Linked DNA regions of Homo sapiens. The protein of the gene in region 3 interacts with the protein of the main gene of each other region in a pairwise test. Each region holds a gene or a part of one and is shown on either strand. Other genes may lie near its edges. The genes, in order: ZNF79, RP9 and FGF12.

Region 1 (7,824 bases), on a different chromosome or scaffold from region 3:
GCACAATCTTGGCTCACTGCAACCTCCACCTCCCAGGTTCAAGCGATTCTCCTACCTCAGCCTCCCAAGTAGCTGGGATTACAGGCACGCACCACCACGCCCGGCTAACTTTTTTTTTTTTTTTTTTTAGTAGACGGGGTTTCACCACGTTGGCCAGGCTGGTCTCGAACTCCTGACCTCAAGTAATCTGCTTGCCTAGGCCTCCCAAAGTGCTGGGATTACAGGTGTGAGCCACTGTGCCTGGCCCTACTAAATTCTTAAATGGGCAAAAGATTTGAACAGATATTTCTCCAAGCAAGAGATACAAATAGCCACTCCCTACATGAAACTGAACATCATTAGTCATTGGGGAAAAGCAAATGAAAACCACAATGAGAGAACACATCACACCTACTAACATGACTATAATAAACAAGATGGAGAATAACAAGTGTTGATGAGGATGTAAGGAAACTGGAAACCTCATACACTGCTGAGAATAGAAAATGATGCCGCCACAGTGGAAAAAGTTCAGCAGTTCCTGTGAAAGTCAAAGAGGGTTGTATGACGCAGTAATTCCACTTCTAAGTATATGCCCAAGAGAAATCAAACATACACACACACAAAAATTCACTGAAGAATGGATACACAAAATGTGATCTCTCCATACAATGGAATATCATTCTACCACAAAAAGGGATGAAGTACTGACGCATGCTATAACCTGGATGAACCCTGAAAATGATGTGCTAAGCGAGACACAAAAGGTCACATATTGGCAGGTGGATTGCCTGAGGTCAGGCGTTCAAGACCAGCCTGGCCAACACAGTGAAACCCTGTGTCTACTAAAAATACAAAAAATTAGCTGGGTGTGGTGGCGGGTGCCTGTAATCCCAACTACTCGGGAGGCTGAGGCAGGAGAATCACTTGAACGCGGGAGGCGGAGGTTGCGGTGAGCTGAGATCGCACCATCGCACTCCAGCCTGGGCAACAAGAGCAAAACTCCGTCTCAAAAAAAAAAAAAAAAAAAGTCACATATTATGAGTCCACTTATTTGAAATGTCCTAGGCAAATCCATAGTGACAGAAAGCAGATTAGTGGTTGCCAGTGACTTGTGGAGAAATGAGGGACTGGGGAGTCACTGCTACAGGCTATGGGGTTTCTTCTTCAGATAACAAAAATGTTCTGGAATTAAATAGTGATGGTTGCAAGACTTTGTGAAAATACTAAAAACCACTGAATTGTTCACTTTAAAAGGGTGAATATTATGGTATGTGAATGATATCTGAATAAAATAAATAAATAGATCTGGATCCTGATCTTAGGACAGACCTTCTGTTACTGAGAGTTATCTAACCTGACAGCACTTCCTTTCCTGTTTTGCAGTATGGGGAAGATGACGACCCATCTGCTCTGCTTTCCCAGGTGTCTGGGGAAGATAACACAAAATACTGGATGTGAAATTGCACTCTCTACTCTTCAAGTGCAAGACCAAATATAAGGATCTCTTGGCCAGGAGCAGTGGCTCACGCCTGTAATCCCAGCACTTTGGGATGCCGAAGCCAGTGGATCACTTGAGGTCAGGAGTTTGAGGCCAGCTTGGCCAACATGGTGAAACCCCGTCTCTACTAAAAATACAAAAATTAGCTGGACTTGGTGTCGGGCACCTGTAGTCCCAGCTACTCAGGAGGCTGAGGCAGGAGAATCGCTTGAACCTGGGAGGCGGAGGTTGCAGTGAGCTGAGATTGCGCCACTGCACTCCAGCCTCGGCGACAGAGCGAGACTCTGTCTCAAAAACAAAACAAAACAAACAAAAAAAAACAAATACAAGGACCTCTTGATCTTGGGGACAGCACCAAATTCTGGATGTAAAATTGCACTTGTAGAGTAAAAGACCAAATACAGTTGATCTAGGGGTGAACAGCAGAGGTGTTGGTGGTTAAGACTTAAAAGAGGTTGCCTGCTTACACATTTGTTCTGTACCACATTCAGGGTGCTTTCAAAAGTGTTATTTCATTTGAGAATTACAATTCTCAGAGGTAAACAAAGTAGTTAACATTATTTTGTCCTTTCTTCCATGGAGAAATACAGGTTAAGAGACCTGGCTGGTACCTCACAGCTTTCACAAGAACCTGTGCCTTCTAACTGCAAATTCCCCTGTCCTCCACAACTTCACAATCCTACTGGGCTGGCCTGCCCCCAAACTTTCCCGGGCTTCCAGGCATTCCTGGCTGCTTCGAGAAGGGCTAGAAGGAGAAAAGTGACAGAGGAGTCCCCAGGAACCCACTTCTCCCTACTCTCCACTGTCATTGGTCCATCTGGGCAGACTGGGGTACGTGGTACAATACTCAGAAATCACGCAGTCTGAGGTCCTCAAACTTTTTTGACCCCCGAATTCTTTACTCAAAAAAGGACTGTAGGGGCACATGTTCTCAGGATCTCCTGGGGCTGTGTCATGGGCAAAGAAAGAAAAAATGATTGTCTCCAACTACCTGTAGGAGAGATAAAGAGAGTTCTGATTCGGCTCACACAGCGGCAGTCGTGGGCAAACGAAGCAGCAGCCGATCTCTTGACAATCGCTCCCTCTACCACTCCTCACCTCCTTCCTCCAGCATTTGAGTCCCGCCTCGCGCCACAGCCTCCCAGCAGTTCTCTGGGCGTAAGGGTCTATCTACAGCAGCCCCCACCCCGTTCTGCAGGGCTGCTCTGACGGCTCCCAGGCCGGACTCTTCCTCTCCAGCCTCTCCCCGCAGAGGCACGGTCTGATCCTGCGGTGCTGGGTCGCGGGAGCTGTCCGGGCCTGCCCAGCCGGGTGTTCCACTCCGTCTCCCGAGTCACAGCCACTCTTTGGCTCGGCCTCAAGCAGAACCCGGTGAAAAAGCCGCTGCCAGCTTTCCGAAAAACGACTGGCAACTGGCAACTGGCAACAATCTACCGGCAACCGCGAGAGCTCAAGAACCGCTGTCCAAGTACCGCCCAACGCCAGGTCCTGGCTCCAGCGCCAGAGGGACGCGCCTGATTGGCGCCACTTCCGGTCATGCGCACATGCCCCGCGGCGGCCACACCGGACTCCATTTCCCAGAAGTCGCCGCGGGGCTCTGTTTCTGGCCAAAGTCTTTTTCATTCCTGCAGCCCGGTTTATGATACACACACGCTCAGGGATTGTACTTCCCAGAGAGGCTTCCGCCTGTGCTTGCTCCCGGAATCTATTATCCATCGTGCTTTTTTGTTGCACACGTCTTTAAAGTCCACCAGAATCCAACGAAATGGAGCCTCGAGGAAAAGAAGAGATTTAGCCGCGAAGGATTCTGGGAATGCTGGGCTTACAGGGGCGCCGATCTTCGCTGGCGCTAGGCGCTTGGTTTCCTCTCCGCAGCTCTCTGCGCACGGTACGCCTGTCCCTCGTTGGCCTTCCACTCAGGGCAATCACCAGCCACTCTCAGGGTCCTCTTGAGCCGTACTAAAAGTTTGGGAAGACTAAAGGAAATCAGAAGTCCCTCAGTCTGAACAGGACAGCCGTGAGTGGGTGGCCTGGGACCCTCAAAGTATAAAAACCTATCGGCCGGCGGGAACTGCTTCAGTCATTTCAGGGGCAGTGTTTGATCAGCACTTCTGCGGGAGGAGATTCCTGAATCCTGTGTTCCTTAAGGGCTTCCCTGCTGCAGGCTGGGGATGTTTCAATGGACTTTCCCTCGAGCCCTTTGGAAATTACTTCTTAAGCAATTTTTCGATGATCAGCTCCTTTTTATAGGCATTTTGTCGTTAAGGGGAGGGGACTGGGTTACCCAGGAAATAAGTGAGTATGGGGATTCTAAGGCTCCTTTTCATTTTGTCTTGTCTCTTTCCCTTTCAATCACAGCCGGTGGCATTTTTGCCAGTGTAAGTTTCTTAATTTTGTGGGTCTTCCTATGAATCTTAATGGGATTGGCTCCATCGGAGAAGCCACACTCACAAATGTCTTTGAGCTAGCCCTTCTCTATATTGGGCAGCTGTAGTTTGGGGCTTACAGTTTTGTAAGAAGTCTGAAGTGGGTCTCACTGGGCTAAAATCAAGGTGTCGACAGTGCTGCATTCCTTCTGGAGGTTCCAGGGGAGAATCTTTTCTTGCCTTTTCCAACTTCCAGAGGCTGCCTGCATCCTTGACTCGCAGCCCCTTCTTCCAACTTCAAAGTAGCAACCTCAGCCAGAGTCCGTCCATTGCTGCCCTCTGTATGGTTCTCTCTCCTCCGCAGCCCTCTTCCACTTTTAAGGACCCTCATGGTTAACACTGGGCTCACCCAGCTAATTGAGGAGAATCGTTAAGGCCAGCTGATTAGCAACCTTAATTCCATTTGCAATTTTATTCCCTTTTGTCATGTAACCTAACATATTCAGAGGTTCCGGGGATTAGGACATGTATATCTTTGGGGGGTGGTATTCTGCTGACCACAGCAGGATTAGAAAACCAGATGGAAGTGAATGGATACCGGGAATCTAGGATCCAGCTGGCTGTCAGGCTGGCAGAGGTATCCCAGACCTGTCAGCTCTCAGGAAAGCTGCATCCAGAGTGCTTTTTGGATCACTGGGGGATACCTGGCCTCACTCTAGACTCACTGCCGTGGTCGTTTCAGAATTGAATCCGTGATCAGGAAATGTTCCCAGTGTTGCTAATGTACTCCTCCCACACTTGAGAGTCCTGAATCCCATCTCCTGAGAAGAGGCGTTGGGCTCAAGTGGCTAGAGAGAAGTTTCTTGTCAGAGAAATCTTGCTACCTTGAGGAGAGGAAGCATAACTAGACTGGGATGGATAGGACACTTAGGGAAGAGGAAGTGTTTCATATCCCTGGGACCAGGAGGCCAGAATGAGGCAAACTTGCCCCTCTGTCTGGCCTCCTGTGTTGAGGAGGCCTGAGGTGGCAGAAGGAAGATGGGAGAAGGGCCCCCAAGAAAGCTCTGGCCAGCCTCAGGCTGTCCCCACCCCGCTGATATAGCGTATGTGGAGATAAGGGAGCACCCAGGAGCAAGTGTCACCCCTCCCCTTCCAACAGCAGCCAAAAGGGTCATGACCCTGGCTGCCCTAACTTGGCCCTTGTGTGTCCTGAAGCACAGACACACTGCTTAGAAAGATCATCCTGGTCGCAGTGGCTCACGCCTGTAATCACAGCACTTTGGGAGGCCGAGGTGGACAGATCACGAGGTCAGGAGTTCAAGACCAGCCTGACCAACATGGTGAAGCCCCGCCTCCACTAAAAATACAAAAATTAGCTGGGCGGGGTGGCACGCACCTGTAATCCCAGCTACTCAGGGAGCTGGAGCAGGAGAATCACTTGAACCCGGAGGCAAAGGTCGCAGTGAGCCGAGATCGCACCACTGTATTCCAGCCTGGGCGACAAAGCAAGACTCCATCTCAAAAAAAAAAAAAAGAGATTCTCCTTTGTCTTGCCTCTCAGCTGTCATAAGCAATCAGTGTCCTGTCCCCTTAATAATGTGGTGGTTCTCAAAGTGGGATCCCCAGGCCAGCAGCAGCAGCATCCCCCTTAAAAGTTGTTAGAAAAGCAAATTCAGGGGTCCCACTCCACACCTATAAAACAAATTCTGGGGTCAGGGCTTAGCAGCCTTTGTTTTGACAATCCTTGTAGTTGATACGCTATAAAGTTTGAAAATCACTGACTCAGAGGAAATGGCTTTGTGGAGAAAATGAGCCAAGGCCGGGTGTGGTGGCTCACGCCTGTAATTCCAGCACTTTGGAATGCTGAGGCAGGTGCATCACCTGAGGTCAGGAGTTTGAGACCAGCCTGGCCAACATGGTGAAACCCCGTCTCGACTAAAAATTAAAAAAATAGCTGGGCATGGTGGCACACACCTGTAATCCCAGCTACTCAGGAGGCTGAGGTGGGACAATCACTTGAACCCAGGAGGTGGAGGTTGCAGTGAGCTGAGAGCTCACTGGGAGACAAAGTGAGACTCCGTCTCAAAAAAACAAAAAAACAAAAAAAAAAAGAAAGAAAATAAACGAGCCATAGGAAAGGCCACAAGACAGCTACTTACTTCCACAAGCACATGCTGCGGCTCCCTGCCTCTCCTTTTGCTCAGAGCCACACTGGCTCTTAATGGCTTCAGAGGTCACACCAGCCTCCGTCCTGCCACACAACCTTTGCACTTGCGGGGCCATGACCAGCAGCACTCAACACAGCTGGCCGCTTCTCATGCATGATGTCTGAGCGTACGTCTCAGGAGGGGCCCTCACTTAGTACCCTGTACAGTAACAGCCCTTGCTGCTCCCATGGTGACTTTTTATTTCCTTTTAGCATTTTCCACTGTTGAATAAGTTCACATAGATTGGGTTTACTTTTTTTTTTTTCTTAATTTAGACACAGTGTCTTGCTCTGTCACCCAGGCTGGAGTGCAGTGGCACACCACTCATATAGCTCACTGCAACCTTGGACTTCTGAGCTTAAGCAGTCCTCCCACCTCAGCCTTCTGAGTAGCTGGGATTCCAGGTCTGCACCACCACACCTGGCTAATTTTATTATTTATTTATTTATTTATTTTTTAGACAGAGTTTCGCTCTTGTTGCCCAGGCTGGAGCACAATGGCACGATCTTGGCTCGCCACAACCTCCGCCTCCTGGGTTCAAGCGATTCTCCTGCCTCATCCTCCCAAGTAGCTGGGATTACAGGCATGCGCCACCATGCCAGGCTAATTTTTTGTACTTTTAGTAGAGACAGAGTTTCTCCATGTTGGTCAGGCTGGTCTTGAACTCCCGACCTCAGGTCATCGGCCCGCCTTGGCCTCCCAAAATGCTGGGATTACAGGCATAAACTACTGTACCTGGCCTATACATACACACACACACACACACACACATATGTGTATATATAGATATATATGTGTATATATGTATATATATGTGTGTGTGTGTGTGTGTGTATATATATATATATATTTTTTTTTTTTTTTGAGATGGAGTCTCACTCTGATGCCTAGGCTGGAGTGCAGTGGCGGGATCTCGGCTCACTGCAATCTCCGCCTCCCGGGTTCAAGCGATTTTCCTGTCTCAGCCTCCCAAGTAGCTGGGATTACAGACACGCACCACCATACCCGGCTAGTTTTTGTATTTTTAGTAGAGACGGGGTTTTACCATGTTGGCTAGGCTGGTCTCGAACTCCTGACCTCAGGTGATCTGCCCACCTCGGCCTCCCAAAGTGCTGGGATTATAGGCGTGAGCCACCACGCCAGGCCAGACCTGGCTAATTAAAAAAAAAAAAATACTCCCAAAGCACTGGGCTGACAGGTGTGACCTGTTTAATTCTTTTGTTTGTTTCTTTACTTCTTATTGTCTGCCTCTCTTCAGAAGCTAATTCCCATTAGAGCAGGTGCTGTATTCTTTGCCACCACCATATCACCAGTGTCTACAACTGCCTGACACACAGTAGGTAGTCAGATGCTGAAAGAGTGAATGAATGATGTTCCCCCAGGGCAGGCACGGGTTCTCCAAGTGCCTGTTTCAACACTCCTCCCATGCCACCACCCCTAGACCCAAGCTTGGCATTCCTTTTTTCCTGAGTGATCAGGAAGGCACAGCCACTGTCCCCGGCCTAGTGTGTGATGTCTGTAGCTAAGAAAAAGGCTCCGTCCTTGCCTCAGCTCTGAGGGGTGGGGCCTCAGAGATAAGGAGGACCCTACCCTTGTGTTGCTGGCCCTTCTTTTCAGCATGTCAGACGAATTTGTAATTTCAACCCCAGCCTTTCCCTGCCCCAGCCATAGTTGCTAAGGCAACAATTGGGCCTCAATTTCCTGATGACCAGAGTCCACCAATGGCTGCCATCATCCTGTTATCTCCTGGTCAGCTATTTGTGGCACCATC
Region 2 (9,398 bases), on a different chromosome or scaffold from region 3:
ATAACAATGTCTGTTTCAGAAAAAAAATCACTGTTCCAAGTTACAAACAAAGATCACTTTAATAAGAATTCCTTTTTTTTGTAAAAGAGCTAATTTGTCATACAAATGTAATTTAATAAGCATGTAGTTAACAGCACACACTTTGGTCAAAGGGCTTCTGGGAATGTATTTTATGTGACCATTCAAGTTCACTGGTGACTTTCTGCTTCACTGATTTTCACTATCTCTGATAAATGTAAATTGACACTCTTGGACTTTACTTACCACTCTGAACTGCTCTAACTTTTGGTTGCCTTTGATAAAGAAAGGGCATTCTTTGTCACCCGTTCGGTGACCATAGCGTTTGCAACGCCAACCTAAAAACGAAAAGAGAAATATTTCTGTAAGATAACAGTTTCACCTACTCAAGATAAAGAATCAGCAGAATATATTCAAGTTTTTCTTCATTAAACTCTAATTCTAAAACAAAATATAATTATGGACAAGCCATGTAAGATCCCAGAAACAGAGGTAAACTAATTGCTTCCCCAAGCATCCTTTAGTCTTATACCTTTAGGAATAATATTCTATCACCAAGTATTTATGAAGCAATCCAATGGAGAATTACTTCAAAAGGTGAATTTTTTTTTTTGAGATGGAGTCCTGCTCTGTCGCTCAGGCTGGAGTGCAGTGGCGTGATCTCAGCTCACTGCAACCTCTGCCTCCTGGGTTCAAGATATTCTTCTATTTCAGCCTCCTGGGTAGCTGGGATTACAGGTGCGTACCACCACACCCAGCTAATTTTTGTATTTTTAGCAGAGATGGGGTTTTGCCATGTTGCCCAGGCTGGTCTTCAACTCCTGACCTCAGGTGATCCGCCCGCCTCAGCCTCCCAAAGTGCTGGGATTACAGGCGTGAGCCACCACGCCCGGCCCAAAAGGTACATTTTTTTTAAAGTGTGTTTCAGTATATTTTTCAGAGTAAATGTTTTCATAAAGTATCTCTGCTTCTCATTTACTATTTTAGACACTATAAAAGCTTCTTTCTCAGGTTGAGTCTGTTCAAAACTCTCACTTTTAAGTAAATAAAATCACAAGTTCTCTTAGAATATTAATGGTGGCTGGGCACAGTGGCTCCTACCTGTAATCCTAGCACTTTGGGAGGCAGAGGCGGGTAGATCGCTTGAGGCCAGGAGTTCGAGACTAGCTTAGGCAACATGGTGAAACCCTATCTCTACAAAAGTACAAAAAAATTAGCTAAGCCTGGTGGCGCATGCCTGTAGTCCCAGCTATCTCAGAGGCTGATGTGAGATCACCTGATTCTGGGAGGTTGAGGCTGCAGTAAGTTGTGATCACACCACTGCACTCCAGCCCGGGTGACAGAGTGAGACCCTGTTTTCCTGACCCTGGTAGAAGGTTGTTTAATGTGTGGAAAAGGTAAAACAGAGGGTCTCTGGCCAGGGAGACCAGGGAGACATCAGGTAGGTCTGAAGGAAGCTGCTGCAATAGCCACAAAGGGTCACACGAATGAATGAAAAGCAGATGGACACATTTCCAGACTCCCTCCACTCGGCTCCCAGAACACTCATAGTATGGCTTTCCCTCCACGTGGGAGCCTTCTCTGGGAAAATATAACCCACCCAAAGAAGAAAAACCGATAGATACTGAACTCTGAGGCACGTTGTCTTTGCTTTTAACAAATAATCAAGGCAATGAAGCATTCCCATCAAAATTCTCAAGGAAACTGATTTTTAAATTAGAATTCAATATCCTGGTAGTTAAAAATCTGTTAAAGACGATTCCAGAAAAGTAAAGGTCTTAACATTTTTATCTTCTATAAACCCATTTTGAAGGTAACAGCCATAGGATTTGTTACACCATAAGGAGAGAATATGATAATAAAGAAGACTCAAGACACAGGAAAATGGGTGATCCAACACGGGAGAGAGGCTAAGGGGACCTGCAGAAAGATGGTGTCTTAGTCAGCTCGGGCTGACATAACAAAATGCCGTATTCTGGGTGGCCTAAACAACAGAAACTGGTTTTCTCATTCATTCTGTAGGTTGGAAATCTGAGATCAGGGTCCCAGCAAGGTGGGTTTGTGGTGAGAGCTTTCTTCCTGGCTTAAGATGACAGCCCTCTTTCTTCTTCACATGGCACGGTGGTGGGGGGTGGGGTGGATGCTTCCTTATCTAGAAGATGGAGAACGTGCCTTGGCTGTAAGAGGGCTGTGATGAGAACAAGTTAAATAAAAGAAGTAAACACTCTTTGTAAATTGAGGCATGTAAGTTGCATGGATTAGGGAAACTCTCCCACACTCACACTGCATAACTTTGACTTCTTTCCCCAGTGGCATCCAAAGTCCTTTAGTTGGTGCATGAGCCAGAAATTCCCTGGCGTGTTCATTGCCTGGTACATCTGGTATGCAATCTTCTGGCTTAGTCTCATCTTCCTAAAAAAGGGAACAGGTATAAACAGCATGGCAAGAGCGCTGGGATTCTCTCCTGCTCCCCTTGGAGCCACCCTTGCCTGGCTTTTTCCTGGGCTTCCGGTGCCAACATCATCTTAGTTACCCCTCAAAACTAGAAAAAAAGACAAGTTACACCTGATTGAAAAAACAGGAAACAAATGTACCAGAAGAACTATACCAAAAACAATGTAGCTGTTCTTAGAGAAAAGTTACTGGTGAAGCAGAAAAATCTGTCCTTATATAGCAATGACTGGGGAGCTCCAAATAAGATTCTGAGATTAAAAAAAAAAAGTTTCACTACCTCAAAATATAGAATTAAAGTAAACCAGGCTTCCTGGAATAATAGAAATGGCCTGTTATGCTAGAATAGTTTATTATACCCTGAAGGCCCTGTCATGTTTTACAGTCACACACATGCTATATCTCTGATGTACATTTTTACCACTCAATAACTGCATTTACAATTAATGTGTTTTCAAACTTTTGGATTTTTTTCAAGTTTCTATGAATATTAAATTTACAATAGACTCATGTTTTTAAAGAATATTTCTTCGCTGAGAGTTATGAAACAGCAAGTTTTCTTGGCCGTGGCCTGCCACTCTAAGTCTCCCTCGTGCACACACACCCTGGCACCTTGGCCAGGGAGCTGCAGGAGGGATGCCTGTACCAGGGAGCGGGACTGGATAGCTGTCAGATCTCCTCAGAGTTTACTGCTCTCTGAGCTGCTGAGCTCAAGAAACCAGCAGAGGATGGACCGAGGGGCTGAGCCGGGTGAGGCCGACAAGGAAAAGGAGCTTAGAGATGCCATCCCCAGCAAGAGAGAAGAGGGGCATGGCCAAGGAATCCACGTGGGCCTGCACTGGTTCTTCAGGGAAGGGAAACATGGCTGATGAAATTTCTGCAAAGGCAGAGGCTTGTGACAAAACTAAAAATTATGACCCCTCATTCATCTGCAGGAAAAGAAACAGGCTTTTGGTAAAAGGAGATTTAACATCATGCAATTATTTTTCATAACAAGTTACTGAGTCTACAAGTATGTCTTGTGGAATAACCAAGAGTACAAACTTCACACTAACCTTGATAAGCCCAGGAGGAGGTTTTTCGTAACTGGAAAACAAAAAACAAAACCTTATCAACCATGTTAATGTAAACATAACACATCAAGTTACTGCAAAAAAGGGGCTATAGGATTTTTAATCAGAGATTTTAGCAACAATAAGCTTTTATCACTGGTTTGCAGACAAGCAATCACCTGAGAAGAGCAGAATGCTTCTCCTCCCTGTGCTGAGCGGCACCTGCCATCTAAGACTGGCCAGGCCTTCCTTATTTCCATCCAGGGACTGAACCCAGAGGAGACCCAGAATGCTGAGCACGCAAGTCTCCAGATGGGACAGGCAGCAAGATGGGAAGGAAATTCTGAAGGCGAGGTGTTTGTGCACTCAAAGAGCAACTCTCAGGCTCCTAAAGCAATTTGTACCTCCTCCCAAAAGAGTAATATGCAAATATTTTTAGCTCAGGTCTGTCCCTTGACCCTTTAAACCTTTAGGGAAGTATTTTTTTTTTTTTTGAGACAGGGTCTTGTCGTGTTGCCTAGGCTGGTCTCAAACCCCTGGCCTCAAGCAATCCTCCCACCTCAGCCTCCTGAGTAGCTGGGACTACAGTTGTGTACCATGGCACCATGACACCTGGCTCTCTTATTTTAATACTTCAGAATGGCTGCAACATAGAGAAACACTTAATGATTTAATGTTTTCTTCATTCGGACTCTCGTCTTATGCATAGTTTAAGGGACCCTTTAGAAGACAATGAATATTGGAAAAGGGAGTCAAGAATAGACAAAGGGAAAAGTGAAAAAATTTTCATTTGGCCAGGCGTGGTGGCTCGCGCCTGTAATCCCAGCACTTTGGGAGGCTGAGGCGGGCAGATCACTTGAGGTCAGGAATTCGAGACTAGCTTGGCCAACATGGTGAAACCCCGTCTCTACTAAAAATACAAAAATTAGCTGGGCGTGGTGGCGGGTGCCTGTAATCCCAGCTACTCAGGAGGCTGAGGCAGAAGAATTGCTTGAACCTGGGAGGCAGAAGTTGCAGTGAGCTGAGATCGCACCATTGCACTCCAGCCTGGGAGACAGAGTGAGACTCTGTCTTAAAAAAAAAAAAAAAAATTCATTCTCCCCTTCTATAAGATGTGGGAGAAAGCAACTTGATGGACAATGGATGAGAAATACTACTAATCCCAGATCTGTTCCCTCAAGATTAAATAGTAAACAACTGTGTATTAACAGGATTAGCTTTGTAAGTGTGGTACAGTGTTTTCCCAAAGTAGGTGCTTAAAATATTTCTAACAAAAAGCTGTGGCATGACATAGGCCTAATGGAGCAAAAACAATGGAAATCTGCACAACTTGTGAAGATGATAGTTTATCTGTAGCCATTCATTAGAAACATTAATGCTATACCTTATGCATAGAGACTAGAAGGAGCTTGACAGTAAAGTCTATAAATCCAAAAATCCAATAAATGAATCCTTTTGAGCCACAAGCATTATACAAAAAATATATGGCCAATCGAATTGAGATCCAAATTCTCAAAAAAAAGTAACTGTTCTTGCCAAGATGAAAATGAGTGTGATGCAATTGCACATTTGGAAATATAATATTATCAGCAATGGCATTCCCAAAGTCCATTTTACAAGTGGTTTCACAAGTTTAAAGAAGGGTGGTTCATGTTGTTTCCCGGGGCTGAACAATTCATTAATGTAGTATACTCAAAAATATATTTCTGAAAGTAGTATTTAACTACTAAATACAGATTAGAAAACTGAAGTATGTTCACGCACAGTTTAGGTTCTACAGTGTGACAGTTAAGAGGTATGCATTTATCTTTGCAGTCACTGTCACCCAAGCTGGAGTGCAGTGGCGTGATCACAGCTCACTGCAGCCTTGAACTCCTGGGTTCAAGCAATCCTCCTGTCTTGGCCTCCCAAAGTACTGGGATTGTATACATGATCCACCGTGTCCAGCTGCAGTTAATTCTCAAGATAAAAAAAAGTTGATTGAGATGCATTATTTTGTGCCATCTGAAAAGCCTTACTTAGTCATTCAGACTGTACTAACTTTCTCTGAGTAGGAAGAAGACCAGTTATGTCTGAGACACGCTGTCTTCTCAAGTGTGTACAGAGTAAGAAATCTTTTGTTAAGTGTTTCAAATTACTCTTTCTGTTGACTGTTGAGATGGGTTTTCTTTGAGAAGAGTCCCTAATGCAAGTGTACTCCATTCCACACAATTGTTCCTGCAGCTGCATCCAAGGGGCTGCGTGGCAGAGGTGAAACTGCCACATACACCCAGAAGGTCCACTCTGTTATGCCTGGCAGCCCAGGAGCTATTAAGTGACAGAGAGTGTTGGAGCAGGTGGAAGCCTCGGATGCCCTCAGGGGCCTGGCAGGCAGGGTCACCGAGGGAAAACTGTGGTGGAGACTCAGGAGACTCCATCACATCAGGGATGAAAAGATTTGAATTCAATTTATAAAAGAGCACTGTGGGGCTTCCCATTTAACATGGCCAACTGACCAACATGCTTATCTATCTCCTTCCCCAGATGCTTTAAAAATGACAGTGAAAAAATAAAAAGGCCATAAAGATATCCCAAAAGGAGGCAACATCAGAGGAAGTTTTCAACAAATTTGGGAAAGTGGAAATAGCAATGGATTTCCTGGGGTGGAAGAAGTAACACTTTTCAGAAGATGAGGCTTCCTTCCTATAGCCAGGAGGCTGCCTGCCCAACACTTGAAGGAGGCTGCAGGGTTAGCCTCTCCAATTCAGCAACACTGGCAGCCAGGCAGAGATCCCTGGCCCCCAGGCAGAGGACTCAAGACCCTTCTCTAGAGGAACTTAGGAGCCCCAGAAAAAAATCTCCAACTACTGACATTTGGAAGTCTCTTGATAAAAAGGGTACCCTGCAGCATGAGCGCCCTATCATGAAGCTATCTGATCAACAAACAACACCTTCTCTCTTTTTTCTCTCCCACACACAGCTGCCCTTGACAAGAGCTGTATAGCGCCTACTCTTAAATGAGTTGAGGCCAGAGCAGCGGCTCATGCCTGTAATCCCAGCACTTTGGGAGGCTTAAGTGAGAGGATTCCTTGAAGCCAGGAGTTCGCGACCAGCCTGGGCAACATAGTAAGATTCCATCTCTAAAAAAAAAAGTGTAAAAAAACTAGCTAGGTGTCATGGTGTGCACCTGCAGTCCCAGCTACTCTGTAGGCTGATTCAGGGGGGATCACTTGAGCCCAGGAAGTCGAGGCTGTAGTGAGTTATAATCGTGCCACTGTGCTCCAGCCTGGGTGACAGAACGAGAGCTTGTCTCTAAAAAACACAAAACAAAACAAAATATGGTTGAGATTCAAGAATACCCAGATATTAGAGAAAAAAAAATTACTAAATGTAAGACAGCAATCAAAATAAAAAGCAAACAAGAAATAGAGGCAATGTAGGGAACAAAAGACAACAAAAAAGAAAAACGAGTGAGTATCCTCATAGATGAGTGAAGATATTTCACTTATGAAACAAGAACAGGATAATATAAAAAACAACTTGCAGAATGAGAAAAAGCTTTTTGATTTAGAAATATAACAAATATGTTTAGTAGAGAAAAAGATACATCTACAAAGTACAATGAAAATACAAAGACAGAAGAGATAGAGCAACAGAAAATCAACAGAAGGAAAAAACAAAATTGGGGAGAGGAAATAAGACATAAATTTATATATGTAGTTAATGCATTCATGACATGTCAAGAAAAAAAGAGTCAACTGCACAAACTGGGGAACAACACACACTGGGGCCCACTTGAGGGTGGAGGGCAGGCGGAGGGTGAGCATCAGAAAAAATAACTCTTGGGTACTAGGCTTTGTACCTGGGTGATGAAATAATCTGTACAACAAATCCCCATGACATGAGTTTACCTGTATAACAAACCTACACAGGTACCCCTAAACCTAAAATAAAAGTTAAAAAAAAAAAAGTCAATTGGAAAAGACTAACATTATCATGAAACTTCAGGATGGCAGCAATAAAGAATAGTTTCTTAACGTTTAAGGGTGAGGTGAACTTGAACAGGTAACTTATAAAAGAAAGGGACTCAGAATGGCATCAAACTCCTTAGCAGTTTTGGAAGCTAGAAGATAGTGATGTACTATCGCCAAAACTGAGTGAAAATTGTTGTTACTATTTTCCTCCTGCCTCAGCCTCTGGAGTAGCTGGGACTACAGGTCCATATCATTGTGCCTGGCTAATTTTTAAATTTTTTGTAGAGACAGGGTCTCACATTGTTGCCCAGGCTGGTCTTGAACTCTTGGCTTCAAATGATTCTCCTGCCTTGGCCTCCCAAAGTGTTGGGATTACAGGTGTGAGCCAGCATGCCCAGCCCCAAAATGATTTTTGACCTGTAATTTTATACCTAGTCAAATTATGTACCAAGTTTTAGGATAGAATAAAGACATCTTCAGATATGCAAGGTGTCAAAAACTTTACCTCCAATGCACTCTTTCATAGGAAGTTGCAGAATTGGCTTTGGTAAAATGTGAGAGTAAACTTATAAAGAGGAAGACATGGAATCCAGGAATGAGATGCAAGATAGGAGAGTGGGAAAGGATGCCCTAGGACCACTGCTGGACCAGGTCTAAAAAGTAACCAGTGTACTGAAGGACAACAGATTGAAGAGTCTAGGTAAAAAATGAACTGACTACCTGATATGTAGTTATGTGTGGAAAAAGTACTATTGGGGCTCAGAAAATGATACCCCAAAGTATGGTGCTTTGGCATGCTGAGTACTTTGAACTAAATGAGATTAGAGAAGGCCTCAGAAGACAGTTGCTCTCTGACCTTCTCTTGCCCTCCTGTCTCCTGCCCTTCTTTCTTCCCCAAAGCAGTCAGAGAGGCCAGAATTCCTCTTTTCCACAAGTGGGCCATAAAAACTAGAACAAGTCTCCCACAAAGCAAGCCAGAAGCCCTACAAATAACTTTAATTTTTTTTTTAAAGAAGATAAAATCTCAGTGGAACTTTTAAAAAAATATTTAAAATAATAATAATAAACTCCTACAAATATTACCCTAACATTTCCTTGCCTTTCTGTGTCAGAGGTGGCCATAAAAACATGAGCTGACCTACCTTGTTTGATAGATCAGGACCCCTCATTCCAGAAAGGGTCCTGCCCCATATCTGGGAGGAAGTAATCGTACACAGAGAGGCCTGAAAAATCTGAATAGACAGGGCTTGCTGGATTTTCCCTATGACCACTGTATTATACCCTTTTTTGTCTAATCATATTTCTACACTGCTATACATTCTTCATCCAAACTAAGCATAAAAATAGTTTCCTCTGGGTCTCTGGGTCTTCCTTTGTCAACGTTCCCATGTCACATAAAACTTTGATTAAATACATTTGTTATGCTTTTTTCTTGTTGACCTATTTTTTGTTATAGGAGTATCTGCTGTGACTCCTATGATAGGTAAGGAAAGATACCTTTTCACCTTTATGGTACTCAGATTTTGGAGACATTGGGGGAAAAACAGCAGTAGAAAATTAAGTAAGTGAAAAACAAAGGCTCTTATTAACTACTTAAAAGTTAACAATAGTATAGAAAGCAAAATAAATCAGAGTACACTACCTGGCTCAAAGTGAGTAATAATTCATAGTTATATTGCTGTTTTTTTTTTGTTTGTTTGTTTTTGAGACAGGATATCACTCTGTTGCCCAGGCTGGAGTCCTGGAGTGCAGCCATGGCTTACTGCAGCCTCAACCTCCCAGGCTCAAGCAGATCTTCCCACTTCAGCCTCCCAAGTAGCTGGAACCACAGGCATGTACCACCATGCCTGGTTAATTTCTTTTTTCCTTCTTTCTTGCAGAGATAAGGTCTATAAATGCTGCCCAGGCTGGTCTAGAACTTCTG
Region 3 (10,290 bases):
GTTTTTCATGTCTAGCCCCAGTAACAAGCAATGTGCATGGCACAGATAAATGGATACGTCCAAGCATGGATCCTTGTATTAATTAATTAACCAGTGTGGTTGTGGATAATGCTGGGCTAATTGTCTATACGTGATATCACTGACTCTTTTAAGCTATGGAATTCCCTCATGAGAATGCTATCCCTGATCCCTTATTCTGATATTTCTGAATAACCAGCAAAATACACATCTATTTCTAGATTGAATTCCCAAGTGCAAGAGAATCTTAGACTAGATTGTCTACACCAGGTTTTCTCAAAGATCTAGACTAGCAGCATCAACACCTTCTGGGAACTTGTAGAAAAGTAAACTCAAAAGCCCGGGCTAACCCTGGGTTCACTGAATCAGAAACCCTAGGGGTGGGGCCCAGTGATCTGTGTTTTTGTACACACTTAAGTTGGAAAACTGGTCAGAAAGTTGTCCTTACGATTCTGACATAAACAATGCAATGTTTCCTGGACCCAGCCAACAACGTCAACATCCCTGTTAAAATAGTCAGGTTCTTTCTTCTGAAGAAATTAGACTTCATTGTAAGCCAGATAATGGGAAAAAAATAGTAAAACTATGATTTAAAAAATCAGTATAGGAATCAATTGATGTCACTGCCACTCAGTTTTTATTGCATAATTTAAAACGAGTATATCTTAACTACATTGTTTTAAACTGCATACCACAGCTGCATGGCATTCTCTGGTTCCAAACAGATAAAAATGAGCAAAATAAAACTAGGTAAGATGAAGAGGAATCTTAGGGATTTTAAGGAAAGAATCCAGCCCCATACAGAAGCAGAGGAAGTAGTAAGCCTAAGGGTCAAATGCTAACAACAAGAATAACAACAGTAGCAGCTGTAATTATTAAGTACTAATTTTAAGCTTGGTTCTTTATATATATTTTCCTCGTTTGTCTCATTAACCTAGAAAGAGCGTCATTGTACAAATTAGGAAGCAAGGATACAGAAATATATCTTACCCAAGTTACAGAGACTAAAAAGTTGTTAGTTGTGTGTTTGATTTCAAGTCTTACGATCTTTCTACCACACCACTGAGCTGCCCAGGTAAACAGAACAGTTATTCAATGTGAGGGTTAGAAAAAGAAGCTGCAACCCAATGCTTAATTAAGCCCCTAGGGGTGGAAGCCAACTTAAGGCACATAAGAGCAGTGGGTTCTTTCTTGAACCCACCTGATAACAGGCAGGAAGGCCCAGTGATTCCTCAAGTCTGTATCTTATTGGCCCAGGGCTTGAGTGAGACTAAGCCTGCAGAGATTGGGTATTCTGAAGGTTAATAAAATCTGTACATACACAGTGGGACTAGTTTTTCAGTAACAAAGGAAGGTTGATTGGCTTATAAGACTATACTAAAGTATGCCTTGGGTGTTAAGTAGTGGTTAAGCTCATAGACTCTGAAGCCAGTCTGCAACTTACTAGCTGTGTGACCTGGGCAAATTACTTAACATCTCTATGCTTGACTTTTCTCATCCCTGAAATAGGGATGACAATAGTGCCTGCCTCATTGGGTTTTTATGAGGCTTAAGTGAGTCAATATATGTAAAGTACAGTGCCTAAACATAGTAAAAGCTGCAAAAGCATTATTTCAAAAGACTCAGTTATCTTTCCAAATGTCCTTTCAATGTTTGACATGAATAAAGCATGAAAGCATGAAGAATAAAGAGCTTTTTTAAGTTTAGCTGGATCTGTTTAAGTTTATAACTGAACCCAACACCTATTACAGTTTTTTTCCCCATAAAGCATAGAAAGAAAATCTGCTTTATGGGAAAAAAACTGTAATAAAATATGTGAAAAAGGATAAAACTCCACTTATAATTCAATCGTCATTATCCAAATATTGTCACTTTTTGCATAATACAATCTACTATTTGCCAATGACCAAATTTTACATTATAATTAGTGCATATATCCACATGTACTATTTTTATAATTACCATTATGTCATAAACACTTCTGATTATAACCCATGTTCATAAACATGTTAATGGCTGTTAGATATTTCCCTTTCTTTTATTCTTCGCATAATCAAGAAATTCAGTTTATTAACCATGAAACCCTTAGACCTTGGATAGCTTTCATCTGGTGGTAGAAAATGCTTCTTCTATCTAAAATGATCAGTAGCCAATCAAACATTGGAAGACATAGTTATTGGTTTTTAAATTGTTTGAAGGCAATGAAGGATTGAGTGCAATTGTTTTTTAGTAATATATTACTAATGATTGAGAACTAAAGAAAATCAGACTTCCTATCAATAATGTCAGTAAAACACTCAGCCCTTGGACTGTTTGTCATTATTCTGTTAGTCTTTCTTTTTTTTTTTTTTTTTTTTTTTTAGCAAGAAGGTGCTGGTTAGGGCTGGCAGAGAGAAGAAAACCATATCCACCAAATCAACTTCACATATGACTGTTGTATAAATAAACTCATCTTAATTGTAAAGAGGACACATATGAGGGTGAAGAAAAGACGTTATAAAAACATAATGTACAATCTGCTAAGCAAAAATGCCATCAAGTTCGCCAAAAGAGATAGGAGAGAACAAGCAGCTGATCATAAATCTTTAAACAGAATGTATCCACTGTAGTTCCTATATAAACACTTCACAAATGCTGGTTCTTTCAATCCCAGAAGTGAAAAGAATCTTGCCTCTAATCCACTCTTGTTTTGCAGATGAAGAACAAGGCCATAGAAAGAAAGCCACGAGCTCAAACTGAAGATGGGGCGGGAATTAGGATTCAAATCCAGGTCTCCGGATCCCCAAGACAGCGTCTTTTCCACAAGGCCACTGCAGCCATCCATCAATTTAGACATGAACCTGTTACCTATGTGGTCACAATCATGCCATATACAAACTTTAGCCAAGTAGCACTTTTTTCCTCTTAGTGCTTTCTCACTCAGAATCAAATTAATTCCTCAATAAAGTTATAAATCCAACAACTTCAGTTGCACAATTCACAGCATTAAAAAGCTAGCTCAAACCCACACTGAGTCCTTAAAATTTGATGTGGTAATTATGATCACCCTGTTTATTTTCTGTAGAAGTTAAGCCTAAAGAGGATCAAGAAAGAATACAAACAAGCTTAAAATAACAATTTCTTTGTAACAAGAAAATAAAAATCAATAATGGGCAAACCGAGTTAAAAAAAAAAAAGAGAGAGAGGTTTAGTACACTGAGGTTCATCCATGGAATAGAAGAACGAGAACCTGATCCCAGATCTTCTAGCATTTAATAGATTAGATTAGAATAATCTAAGTAGTCTGTTAGATTAATACATTAGAATATTAGTTATATTTCATTGGAACATGCACCATGTGTATTTTATGCCTCAGTGTATCACCAGAGTATACAATGTCATAATTCCACCAGTGTGCATACTACAGTTAGAAAAGCTCAGCCTTAGAACAGCTAACAAACAGCAGGTTCTAAGGAAATACTGCTTATTGAATCAATCAACCAATGGTCTCATTTTAAAAGACTGGCACTGATTGGTCTGTGCTATTGCTTTAGTTGTCTCCTTCATGTTTACGTTATTGTTATTGAGGGTCTTGCTATATTTGCATAATCGTTTGTTTTTTATGCTGATGCAAATCAAAGCCCATAGTAAAAAAGTACTCATTTCATCTCATGTTAAGTTATTTGTAGGCTTGAAAATAAAGAGTGATTTACATGAAAACCTTTATCTTGATACATAGCAAATATTTCTCTTTTAAATCCCAGAAGAAAGAAGTAAACCAAATTCAATTTTAAATAGTGCTAGAAATGTTGAACATGTTTTGAAATGAAGGAAAAGCCTTTAGATAAAATGTGTAAATAGTCTAATTTTAAATTTTCCAGATTTAAACAATTAGAATGATCATATAATAAATCTTATATAATAGTCTTGTTTGTAGAGTATCTAACCCCAATTTATTATAATATGTGAAAGAGACTAAGGGCAAAAAAAAAAAAAAAAAAGAAAAACAAGAAAAACAACCCAACACATTTTGAAGCAGGAAGCATATCTAGATTTTTCAGTTCCCAAGTATCTGAAAAGAAATTTCCCAAATTACCTGTGTTGAGGTTTGTTCAATCTGTTAGAGTGCTATCAGTACTGGAGGATTCGAGGAAAACCTGTTTCACGTGGGTGATAATTGTAGAAGTGAATGAGGTAGGGAGAGATTGGCATTGCTGCCTCTTCCTGCCTGCTTGGTAAAGGACTCTTTGGTGCATTTAGTTATCTTCTGAACAGCCTCTGAAAGTTTCTGGATTCTTTTTCTGCAGTCTAGTCCCTTTGGGTTGCTTCTCAGGCTAATGGCCAATCCACAAACAAGAAAGAAACAAAAACCTAACCACAGAATGGCAGCATGCCTTTACTTCTATCACGTAGTTTAAAGTCCCACTTTCAATTATGTGTGCTTTTTCAATCATTAGTAATGGGGCTTGTTTCAGGTAAAAAGCCAGGCAGAGTATGCGCTAAAGAAAAAAGAAAAGATCTGTGAAGGGGCAACAGGTGTCCTTTGGGACTTCTGCCTAGGTGCCATCAGCAGCATCGCAGCAGTTAAATACCACGGCCTCCCTGGGTGGGAGTCTCACATTCCCAAAGACAAGGAGACAGAGACTATTTCAAAAAGTAACTGGAGAGATGAGAAAGCTAAAATTAGAACTATTGACATAGATCCTTAAAAAATCCTACCGTGCTCTGCATGCAAGGATGCTAATAAGGAGATGAGGAAGATGATGCTGGGGAAAATGGCATGTCATCTTAGCCTCAAACTCTTGCCATCTATTTTGCATATCTATTTTCAATCCCAAGTCTGTAGTACAGAAATGAAATCTCTCTTCTACACACACTCTCTTAACACTAAAGAGGGTGGTAATAAAAGACAAGGCCCAGGCAGTAGAAGTCCTATAGTGCTCCTGATAAAGAACACATGTATGTGTTATAGTTTCCTAGTAACCATCTTGGAGCTTATCGATGGATTCATAATTGAGGACATACATCATCACCTGAGTGTTTCTTAAATATCTGACTTGCAGGTATTACAGGATGTCTGGTGGTTCTGAGATGTACCCCGATTAAGACCATTGTTAGTGGCCAGAATTTACACAGTTTATGTTTTAAACCCATCCAAGGTGTAATACTTGACTCAATATATCTCCATCCCCAAACCCATAAGATGTAGAGACAAATTCAGGTGTTGGAGACGTTACTATTAAAACTGTAGAATAAGCACACAAGAAATCCCTTTTGGTAAAGTGAAGTTTTTGTGGGAGTTAATGAAGGGTGATTTATTGAGTGTCGTGCAGTATACTTGCTGCTAAAACTACAAAAATGGCAGAGGACCAATTTCTACCATCCAGGATCTCACAGTCTAGTGTAAAGAGAGATACAGCTAAAAATGATGAAAGTCAGATTATAATTCTAAAGAGTTCTAAATACTTTATTAGCATGAGTTTTATTTCATAATCATGATATTATGGTACAGCACTTGGGATGGGTATAAGAATTTTTATTTTGCAGAGAAACAGAGGTAAGATGAGTTGCCTAAGTCATTTAGTCTTTATGATCCTTTGTTTTGTTATCTATAAAATAAAGTTAAAATGCCAAATCACAGGGTTTTAAGGGAGATTGTATATATTAAAAGCCTTTTGAAAAAGTACAAAGTGTTTCACGAACGTTATTTATGGGTGTAAATATGTGACAAATCAGGAAACCCAATATTAAGAGATGCAATAAACCATTATTGGTCAATCAGTAGCACAAAACACCAAACCTAATAAGGTTGGTACTTCAAAAACTTAAAAGCACAAAAGAAAAAGGATAAGGGAATGGCAAGTAGGTTGGCCTCCCCCAGACCTATTACTGAGGGTAACAAGCCTCATAATAACCTAAAGCAAGAAACAGGTTAGGCAGGTAGCTAGTCAGGTGGAATAGCTTTTATAGTAGATACATAGCTTGAGTTCAAATGTTCTCCCACACAATAATTTTGTTTAAATAAACCAAAGGGGAAACAAAAGGCAGGAATTATTGCTGTGGAATGTTAAGTGCCTCTTTGGAGCTCATTAATCACTGTAAGACTTTATATTCTAGCCTCCCGGATAACCTACTAGAACTCTGAAAGATGAATGGAGAAGACACATAAAATGCTAGAAATCAACAGCTCTTGATCCTGTTCATATATCCCTACATTGTAAGCTTTTAGAGGGCAAGTCAATAAACTATTTATACCTCTGTCCCCCACATTTAATAATGTGCCTGGAACAATGTGGCAACTCGGTATTTTAAATTAAATGAACTGGACCCCCTTTGATATTTAAGAATCTTGAGACCCAAAGAGGAAAAGATTTGTCCAAATTTACACCATGACAGGTGGAGTAAGAAACTGTATTTCCTACACTCAGTGACTATACATCATGATTTTACTGAATTATGTTTTACTTATCTCACTATACTGGCTCAGTCTTTTATTATTGTTGTTGTTATTGTTTAACCACAAAATGGCTCTTCTTAAAATCGCTTTCCAGTTCTGATATACTAATGATTGCATAGACATTTCCTTTCTCTGCTGCAGAGTAAATCATCCTGGCTTCAGAGAAATGACTGTTCTATACCTTAAGTGTGTTGGTTCATGGCCCTGACTGAACTCTGATGGCTGGTATGAAATCTAGAACAAAGAATTGAATCTTCCTTGGAAATACATGTGCAGGTCTCTCTTGAGAGAGTGGGTCAAATTACTCCCTTCCATGTTCTGGAATCACACTGATGTTTCTGGGAGCCCTCCTGGTAGCTAAGTTTCCCACACTTCTCCCAACTTACAATCTTCTGGATCCATGAAGTTGGCCTAAAAAAACTAATTAAGGCTATCCAACGCATATAATTCGAATCCCTACTATGCAAACTTAAATATTCTACCTGAGATAGACACTTAGGTGGTTGCTGGAATGTTAAAGGCTCAGATTTTGCCCACGAGAAGGTTAATATATTAGTGAAGATAGAAGAGTGAAATTGTCAAGTTCAGAGATTGCATCTTAGTTTTCTTTCACATTCTCAGAAATAAGCACATTGGGTACATATCAGATGCTCAATAAATATTTGTTTAAATAAAAAGCACAAAAATTACAATGTTGACTGTAAGAAACGCAGTATGTGAGGGACAAACGAGTACTTAGGTCATAGGAATCTCAAAAGGGTTGAACAGAGAGGTATGACAATAGAAAAGGATAAAACTATATTCACTCTGTTTAGAAGTGCCTTGATTTAAGTAGTCAAATATCATCACATTACCATGAGTTAACAGCAGACTTTGTCAGGAGCTTAAAATGAATGTAGAGAATAAATATTTAGGGTAATTGGGGGTTGAAAGTAAGTGATTGGAGGATGAGCAGCAAGGGTATTTAAAAGTAAGTTTGTTTTCTGATCTAACTATGAGTTAGATCACGCAGTTTCTTTTTCATTTCATTTTTGTTGTATCCAAAAACAACCAGAAGACCTAGAACATGATCACATATCCATGAGCCTTCATAATGATTAGACAGATAATATCAAATCTTCTCTACTGAGGTGCCTGGAGTGGTGTCATTCATTCTCAGGTGCAATCAGTTCCCTGAGATCTACACCAGTGCTTCTTAAATGTTAAAGTGCATAGAAATGACCATTAGATTTTGTTGAAATCCAGATTTGATTTGGTAGATGTGGTGTAGGGACTGAGATTCTGCATTTCTAACAAGCTCCCAGGTGATGCAAATGCTGCTGGTCTGTGGACCACCAGCAGTAATGCCCTACATCAGTGGTTAACTCTGGCCATCCATTAGCATCACTTGGGAGCCATTTAAAACTACTTATGCCCAGATCCCACCCCAGAACTAATTAAACTCACATTATTAGGGGTATGGCCTAAGCATCTTTACATTTGAAAAGCTCTACAGGTGTTTCTATAGGTAGTATGCCAGCTTGAGGCTGGAAATCTACCTAGACAAAGAAAAATGTGATATAGGTGGGGGTCAGTGGGAGGTGAGAGTGTGTGTGTGTGTGTGAGAGAGAGAGAGAGAGGAGAGGAGAGGAGAGGAGAGGAAAGGGGAGGGGAGAATAGGGGAGAAAGGAGGGAAGAGGAAAGGAGGGGAGGGGAGGAGAGGAAGGAGGGGAGGGGAGGAGAGGAAGGGAGGGAGGGGGAAGGAAGAAAGGGAGGAAGGGAAAAGGGAGGGAGAAAGGGAGGAAGGGAAAGGGAGGGAAGAGGGAAAGAAGGAAGGAAGAAAGGAAGGAAGGAAGAAAGGAAGGAAGGAAAGAAGGAAGGAAGGAAGGAGGAAAGGAAGGAAAAAGCCTGTTTCCTCACTCCAAATCATGCTTCTCAAACATTAATGTGCATACAAATTGCCTAGGTACTTTGTCAAAATTCTAATTCTGACTCAATAGACCTGGAGTAAATATGGAGATTCTGCAGTTCTAAAAAATTTGTCTGCAAACCACATTTTGACTATCAAGAGTCTAAATCAGTGGTTTCCAAACACTGCTGTACATAGGGACCTCTAAAGGAAACATATATGCTTTTTTCTTCCACCCCAATATTCTAATTTCATTGGTATGCGGTGCCATCTCAGGATGAGTATGTTCAGAAAGTATGTCAGGTGATTCTAGTGTGCAGCAAACTTTGTGAACCACTCCTCTAAATACTAAACATTTTAACTCATTTAAGAATCTCAAGCCCTTAAGATACGCAAGGCACAAATTCCGTCAGAGCTGCTCGGACTGCGTACCAACCCAAATCTTTGAGACAATGTTAAGTACATGGTGCACAAAAATCGCTGAAATTAGATCATGAATTGAACCTCAGGTCAACTGATGTATTTTCCTCTCTTCTTTACCCTGTATGACAGGGAGTGATGCAAAGTTGTAAATAAGGAAGCAAAAATAAATTGATCTTATTTGTAAATAGCTGAAGTTCAACTTTCTGGATGCTGGACAAATGCTCTAAGAAAGGCTGTCAAATGCTAGAGGTAATGTGAAAGTTGTCAAGTGTTGGCGATGGGATTCAAGATTAAACAGGCCATTAGATCTGGGTATGGGATAGAGAACTCTTGAACCCTCAACTGAGTCACGCAATATGACTCTATCTTTAAAGAGTTTCTACTAGAAAAGTATTATATATACATACATTTGAGAATGTCTTCCTAGAATTAGATTTGAATCTGTTGGGGGAAGAAGTTTGTACACGGCAGCATAAAATGTGAAAGATGCACCAATTACAGTATTGCACAAATACACATTTCTCTTAATACACTCTTTTTGGCTGGAATAAAAATTTCAAGTTAGCTACCATCGTTAGCTGTGCCATTTGCACCAACTTAGAAAGTGAGGCCAATGTATAAGTAATTAGCCATTTTTAATCTGATTGCCAAGCAGCTAACACAGCTTCATTAAGAAAGTCCAGGAACTAACATGCATAAAGACTTTCATCATGTTTTTTTTTTTTTTCAGAGGCAATTATGGGACCTCTGCAAAATGACCACAATGTTGGCCTACAGCAAAAGTCTTCGTTGCCTTTGGATCAGTGCTGTGATTCACTATATCATTGCTGTCTGGATTGACATAGAACTTCTGAACTGATTCTTTTCGGATGTATTTCTGAGATTCTTTCTCCTTTCTGAATTCAAAAGACTGAAAGAACAGCTAGAACTCTACTGTTAGCAATATGATCATTAAACCACCTGGAATGCTAAGTGACACGTAGCATGTTTTATGGGCAACGAAGGAAAATAAAAGATTACTGCCGAGAGATATAGCCTCTTTTTATGATTGAACAGGAATTAGTATACACATTGGAGGCAAAACTGTTACCAAGAACCTTTGTCAAATAACTAAATTTAGTGACCAAATACCAGGTGTCATCTAAGCAAGAAAAACTGTTTCATAGTAAAATGATATTCTTTTTCTGTTGTTAACCTTATGTCCCAGAAATACTTAGTCAGCTAGAATATTACAAACCTTTATATGTTAAGGACTGCCTTTTTATTTTAAAATGGAGTATAATAGAGTTAATAATATATGCCTCAAATATACTTATAGACATGGATTCTCTCATATGTGTACATCATTGTCAGACGTGGAGATGCCCATCAATGTATCATAAGAATAATCTGCCTGAACTGAAAATTGCCTGCTAGTCTTAATCCATGTTGATTCAGCTCTTTTTATACTATAAATGCTTGCCTAGGTTCAAATACTTTAAATCTACCAATTAAATACTTAAAACACTTTATTGAACATAGAACT

Evidence for each region.
Region 1: the proteins of FGF12 (region 3) and ZNF79 interact in binary tests that used the Homo sapiens proteins (3 or more experiments, as listed by UniProt).
Region 2: the proteins of FGF12 (region 3) and RP9 interact in binary tests that used the Homo sapiens proteins (3 or more experiments, as listed by UniProt).

Annotation. Positions count from the first base shown.
Region 1 is NC_000009.12:127,419,558-127,427,381, reverse strand, and holds the start of ZNF79 (zinc finger protein 79), read right to left. Parts: upstream 3,001-7,824; 5' UTR 2,595-3,000; coding exon 2,579-2,594; exon of another isoform or gene 2,472-2,578; intron 1-2,471. UniProt on the Homo sapiens protein: May be involved in transcriptional regulation.
Region 2 is NC_000007.14:33,097,007-33,106,404, forward strand, and holds part of RP9 (retinitis pigmentosa 9 protein), read right to left. Parts: intron 3,896-9,398; exon of another isoform or gene 3,751-3,895; coding exon of another isoform or gene 3,701-3,750; intron 3,556-3,700; coding exon 3,525-3,555; intron 2,431-3,524; coding exon 2,301-2,430; intron 357-2,300; coding exon 265-356; intron 1-264. UniProt on the Homo sapiens protein: Is thought to be a target protein for the PIM1 kinase. May play some roles in B-cell proliferation in association with PIM1.
Region 3 is NC_000003.12:192,715,807-192,726,096, forward strand, and holds part of FGF12 (fibroblast growth factor 12), read right to left. Parts: intron 1-10,290. UniProt on the Homo sapiens protein: Involved in nervous system development and function. Involved in the positive regulation of voltage-gated sodium channel activity. Promotes neuronal excitability by elevating the voltage dependence of neuronal sodium channel SCN8A fast inactivation.